2 separate regions of the Homo sapiens genome follow, and region 2 is reported to be linked to region 1. The links are microRNA targets in miRTarBase. Many come from high-throughput screens and were not tested one by one. Region 1 holds a microRNA gene; the other region holds the end of a gene's coding sequence.
What was found. Region 1 holds the annotated microRNA hsa-miR-490-5p (CCAUGGAUCUCCAGGUGGGU, at 865-884, opposite strand). A microRNA usually pairs through its seed, bases 2 to 8, with sites in the 3' UTR of a target mRNA and lowers its output. Matches are read on the target gene's strand: a 7mer-m8 pairs with bases 2 to 8, a 7mer-A1 pairs with bases 2 to 7 and ends in A, and an 8mer does both.

Region 2: miRTarBase lists CX3CL1 as a target of hsa-miR-490-5p. Seed matches in the 3' UTR shown: 7mer-A1 at 1,570-1,576 and 7mer-A1 at 1,582-1,588.

What each region holds. Positions count from the first base shown.
Region 1 is chr7:136,900,841-136,904,088 of GRCh38, reverse strand. It overlaps MIR490 (microRNA 490), which reads right to left and starts at 922; the gene lies at 795-922. All of the region lies in intron 2 of CHRM2 (cholinergic receptor muscarinic 2), which reads right to left. It overlaps LOC349160 (a long non-coding RNA gene), which reads left to right. Exons shown (of 4, transcript NR_046103.1): 3 at 2,088-2,239.
Region 2 is chr16:57,382,740-57,385,739 of GRCh38, forward strand. It overlaps CX3CL1 (C-X3-C motif chemokine ligand 1), which reads left to right. Exons shown (of 3, transcript NM_002996.6): 3 at 1-2,305. The coding sequence ends at 293. Among named protein-coding and RNA genes, the nearest start is that of CX3CL1, 12 kb to the left of the region's middle. RefSeq lists enhancers at 973-1,663, 1,664-2,353, 1,773-1,932.

The DNA.
Region 1 (3,248 bases):
TCACTTGCAAATGTAGATGCAAAATGCTTTAGTAAAATGGTAGCAAATGGAATTCAATAGTACATTAAAAGAGTAACATATCATGACAATTAAAGCCATTGGATTTAGAAATGTATTAGTATCAGGAAAACAAATAACATGTCACTTCACATAGTCTGAATAAGAAAATATATATATATGATAATTCCAATACAAGAAAAATAAAACATTTGATAAAGGTCATCTCCTTAATATCATGTACAACACCTACTTTAAACCAAACCCCAAGGCCATATTACTGTTAAAACACTAGTAGAGTTATTAAAACATCACAAGAATGACTGTTTCAGCATTATTAATTAACATTATAAAACATTTAGCCAATTAAAGATATAAATAAAAATGAGAAATATTGTAAAACAGAAGGCGTATTATTTAAGAATAATATGCTGATACACCAACTTTAGAAATCCAATAAATTTAAATTTTAGAAAATTGCAGTCTTAAATGCTAGATTTGCCTGTTACTAAAATTCATTCTGTACATAATTAAAATTCACAAACAAATATTTTACTTATACTTCTATCATTTCTAATCAGCTTTTTAAAAGAGAAATCTTTTAATACTTATTTTCATCCTAGTAGTTTACATTGTGACACCAGCTCTAACAATATCCACAAAAATAACAAATACTTGGATGCTGAGGTGTGAATTTTGTTCCCATTTTTGAAAGCAGGAAGAGTAAGACTTCCTTTTGAAGGAGATTTGCACATACACTATAGAAGACACCCATTTAGTTCTTGGGAAGATGGAGTTGGAAGTGTCCGCTGCTTGTGAACAGCTCAACAGCATGGAGTCCTCCAGGTTGGTGCATCTCTAAACTTGACCCACCTGGAGATCCATGGTGTCGAACAATGAACTTTCCAAACCAGCAAGGCCTCCATAAAGTGAAGGGAGATCCTCTTCACCACCGTTGGTTGAAGAATAAAAAACCTACACCTACACTAGCCCAAATGAGTTTCTGTTGTTTGTCTTCTGTGTCAGAATTTCATTCATTCATTTCCCATCTCTGGCCTATTGTTTAAAGTTGCTGGCCATAATGTATACTTTCCAGACTCCAGGTTAATCCCAGGCTGAGAAGCTTTGTTTGTTTGATAATGAAAAACTGAACAAGGAAACAAGCAAAAACTTGCAAATAATGTGTACCTTATCATAAACATCCAAAGAGTACAAAATTCTGTGCTCTGCAGTTGCTGTATAACAAACATATTAAATTGTACTTGATTGAGCAAATATTTACATCTTACTGTGGAATTTCAAAGTTTAATGTCTACACGTCTTATTAAGGTTGTTATCTATTATTGTATGGTGGAGAAAGGATATCTAGCTGATAGTCATGTTTAAAAACTGACCTGGGTTTGGGACTGCAACCAAATTCTAAGGGCCTAGCTGTTTATGATTTGCCCATTCCATTCAGGGTCGTCCTAATCCCTTCTCAATCTAAGATGCTTCATTCTCACTATAGTTTGCTCGAGAAAGAAAGTGGCTGCTTATGGTATGAGTTCATAAGAGTCATCTAGGATTGTGTTTAATACCCTATCCCACCAGCTTCTAATTTTTACGTGCATTTAATTGGGGCTATATTTGTTAGTTTTCAATTAGAAAGAGACAGATAAAAAGTAAACTGCACACATTATCAGAGGATGCTATAGCTTACCTTCTCACTTATTATGAATTTGCCACCTAAATTCAAACTCTTCTGAAATTTATACCAATTATTAATTCTGAAAGCAATTCTGATTATCTTAATAACTAGCAACTGACTGCAAACATAGAAGGATAGCTAGGTGGATAGATGGATGGATGGATGGATGGATGGATGGATGGATGGATGGATAGATAGATCGATAGATAGATAGATGAGTTTAAAAGGAAGATCACAGAATCAATGTTAGTAGTTAACAATTATTTTTATATTTTGTTTTGAGAGTAGGCTTTGATGGAGCCTAATGAAAGCCATAGAAGAAGCTAAGGGGAGGCTGGACTGTTATAAACAACCCTTCACTTATCTAATACAATTTAACTAAGCTTATCATTTTTTTTTATAGAAAGAGAAATTGATCAGAATCTACTGACAGTTCTTCCTGTCTGGCTGTGTAATGGATTAGCATAGAGACGAGCAGCACACCTCTGTCAGAAAACCTAAATTTAAGTCACATCTCGGGGCTCTAACAATTTACCACCAACAGCGTCTTTGGAGGTCAGCCCCTGAGTCCATGATTCCCCTGTATTATTGGGAAAGAATTAAGAGGTTTTGTGAGTTATGCATGAGATGTGTGTGCAAGTTCTTTGTAAGCTGTAAATCTTACACATTTATGAAATTATCAATGTTGTTATTTTGTAAATGCAACTGATCAAGAGGCTAGGTTCTTACAACAAATGGATCAAAAAGCGTCTGTATGTTCTCAAAAAATAACAATGGAAATGGGGGAAAAAAATGACATCAGGGAATGGCCAAACTGGGTTGCTTAGGGTCCAAAGATCATTGCTATTCAAATCACTGCACTACAAGATCGGGTGAGATCTGCTAATCTGTTTGGGTCACTATAGGTCAGGGCACAGCACATTATAGATGCTAAATAAATGTGTTTTGTATGAATAAATACACATTTTTCTTTTCCTGTAGTCAATATTTAGTGTGTCTATTTTCAAATTTGCCTACGTGGTAAAGCCACAGTGACATTGAAAACTTGCCCTGCAAGTGCCTGTGAATCTGAACTGTCTCAATCTGTTTCTAGCTGGAATGCAGCTAGAACTGCATGCAACCCACTATACCTTTCTATTTTTCCAAGAACCAAAAACCGCAAGTCCACATATTTAATTTCACGTAATTCTCACATGCCTGGATCTTGGAAATGGAATTTTTCCTTTCCCAGGGCACTCGTTTCCACTTTGGGGGTGCCCACACTCCCCGGGCTGTACAGGACAATCTACTGGCTTGCAGGAAGAAAGTATTAGAAACTCCGTTCTCAATTACTGTTATATCATTCTCTAAAAGAGGTTTTTTGTGTATGTACTATGATATACATAATCATGGAAAAATTATTTCTATGTAATTTATAAATAAGAATATATCCATGCCTTGATTGGAGCTCAAAATTCTGTTATGAATAGAGGTGTGTAGCTCACATTCTTGGTACCCTACCCATATCATTCAGATCTTTCAGTGTTCCCCTGCTGACGTCTATATGCCACTGTCTGCTTCTCTG
Region 2 (3,000 bases), not on the chromosome of region 1:
CAGTGGCTTCAGGCAGCTGGACCCCTAAGGCTGAGGAACCCATCCATGCCACCATGGACCCCCAGAGGCTGGGCGTCCTTATCACTCCTGTCCCTGACGCCCAGGCTGCCACCCGGAGGCAGGCGGTGGGGCTGCTGGCCTTCCTTGGCCTCCTCTTCTGCCTGGGGGTGGCCATGTTCACCTACCAGAGCCTCCAGGGCTGCCCTCGAAAGATGGCAGGAGAGATGGCGGAGGGCCTTCGCTACATCCCCCGGAGCTGTGGTAGTAATTCATATGTCCTGGTGCCCGTGTGAACTCCTCTGGCCTGTGTCTAGTTGTTTGATTCAGACAGCTGCCTGGGATCCCTCATCCTCATACCCACCCCCACCCAAGGGCCTGGCCTGAGCTGGGATGATTGGAGGGGGGAGGTGGGATCCTCCAGGTGCACAAGCTCCAAGCTCCCAGGCATTCCCCAGGAGGCCAGCCTTGACCATTCTCCACCTGCCAGGGACAGAGGGGGTGGCCTCCCAACTCACCCCAGCCCCAAAACTCTCCTCTGCTGCTGGCTGGTTAGAGGTTCCCTTTGACGCCATCCCAGCCCCAATGAACAATTATTTATTAAATGCCCAGCCCCTTCTGACCCATGCTGCCCTGTGAGTACTACAGTCCTCCCATCTCACACATGAGCATCAGGCCAGGCCCTCTGCCCACTCCCTGCAACCTGATTGTGTCTCTTGGTCCTGCTGCAGTTGCCAGTCACCCCGGCCACCTGCGGTGCTATCTCCCCCAGCCCCATCCTCTGTACAGAGCCCACGCCCCCACTGGTGACATGTCTTTTCTTGCATGAGGCTAGTGTGGTGTTTCCTGGCACTGCTTCCAGTGAGGCTCTGCCCTTGGTTAGGCATTGTGGGAAGGGGAGATAAGGGTATCTGGTGACTTTCCTCTTTGGTCTACACTGTGCTGAGTCTGAAGGCTGGGTTCTGATCCTAGTTCCACCATCAAGCCACCAACATACTCCCATCTGTGAAAGGAAAGAGGGAGGTAAGGAATACCTGTCCCCCTGACAACACTCATTGACCTGAGGCCCTTCTCTCCAGCCCCTGGATGCAGCCTCACAGTCCTTACCAGCAGAGCACCTTAGACAGTCCCTGCCAATGGACTAACTTGTCTTTGGACCCTGAGGCCCAGAGGGCCTGCAAGGGAGTGAGTTGATAGCACAGACCCTGCCCTGTGGGCCCCCAAATGGAAATGGGCAGAGCAGAGACCATCCCTGAAGGCCCCGCCCAGGCTTAGTCACTGAGACAGCCCGGGCTCTGCCTCCCATCACCCGCTAAGAGGGAGGGAGGGCTCCAGACACATGTCCAAGAAGCCCAGGAAAGGCTCCAGGAGCAGCCACATTCCTGATGCTTCTTCAGAGACTCCTGCAGGCAGCCAGGCCACAAGACCCTTGTGGTCCCACCCCACACACGCCAGATTCTTTCCTGAGGCTGGGCTCCCTTCCCACCTCTCTCACTCCTTGAAAACACTGTTCTCTGCCCTCCAAGACCTTCTCCTTCACCTTTGTCCCCACCGCAGACAGGACCAGGGATTTCCATGATGTTTTCCATGAGTCCCCTGTTTGTTTCTGAAAGGGACGCTACCCGGGAAGGGGGCTGGGACATGGGAAAGGGGAAGTTGTAGGCATAAAGTCAGGGGTTCCCTTTTTTGGCTGCTGAAGGCTCGAGCATGCCTGGATGGGGCTGCACCGGCTGGCCTGGCCCCTCAGGGTCCCTGGTGGCAGCTCACCTCTCCCTTGGATTGTCCCCGACCCTTGCCGTCTACCTGAGGGGCCTCTTATGGGCTGGGTTCTACCCAGGTGCTAGGAACACTCCTTCACAGATGGGTGCTTGGAGGAAGGAAACCCAGCTCTGGTCCATAGAGAGCAAGACGCTGTGCTGCCCTGCCCACCTGGCCTCTGCACTCCCCTGCTGGGTGTGGCGCAGCATATTCAGGAAGCTCAGGGCCTGGCTCAGGTGGGGTCACTCTGGCAGCTCAGAGAGGGTGGGAGTGGGCCCAATGCACTTTGTTCTGGCTCTTCCAGGCTGGGAGAGCCTTCCAGGGGTGGGACACCCTGTGATGGGGCCCTGCCTCCTTTGTGAGGAAGCCGCTGGGGCCAGTTGGTCCCCCTTCCATGGACTTTGTTAGTTTCTCCAAGCAGGACATGGACAAGGATGATCTAGGAAGACTTTGGAAAGAGTAGGAAGACTTTGGAAAGACTTTTCCAACCCTCATCACCAACGTCTGTGCCATTTTGTATTTTACTAATAAAATTTAAAAGTCTTGTGAATCAATATGGGTGATTTCTCTGGGGACAAGTGCAGCAATCAGGGCTTCGGAGGGGAAGGAGTGGGGCAGGGCTGGGGGCAAGACCCCTTTCAGCCCCGGAGACCCCTATCTCCAGTTCACCTGGGGCAGAAAAGCAGACATTTTTACAGTCAGCAAGAGAAGAAGCACCAGGGATTAGAGTGAGGAGTGCCGAGCCCTCAGCCCAGCTCTGTTCTGCCCGGCTGTGTGATGTTGGGCCAGGGCCCTCACCTCTCTGGGTCTTATAAATGTGAGGCCTCTCCTAGTCTGGCAGGACTCAGAATCCCTCATGAAGCCCTACCCCATGCCTGCCGAACCACCATCCCAGGGGCCCTAGGACCACTCTCAGTGAACTGGTGCCCCATGGGAGGAAACTGGCCCATAGTTTCCTCTTTGTGGCCTTCCTGGTTCAGATGAAGATCAAAGAGGGATTACTTCTTAAGGGACTTGGGAGTTCATAGATGTGCCCCAAGTGTGAGCCTCGTGGTGGCCCCTAAGCTCTTCAGTGTTCTGGGAAGCTTCATAAGAGCTGTTGTGTACAGTTGTGCAGGTTGGAAACTGCGCAAGGCTGCCACAGACCAAGTCCAGCCTACTGGTATCCAATATTTCATGAATGTTAGGATGCATCCTTTTCACACTGTGACATGTGTGGAATTGAGACTCGTTTTGTAATCAATG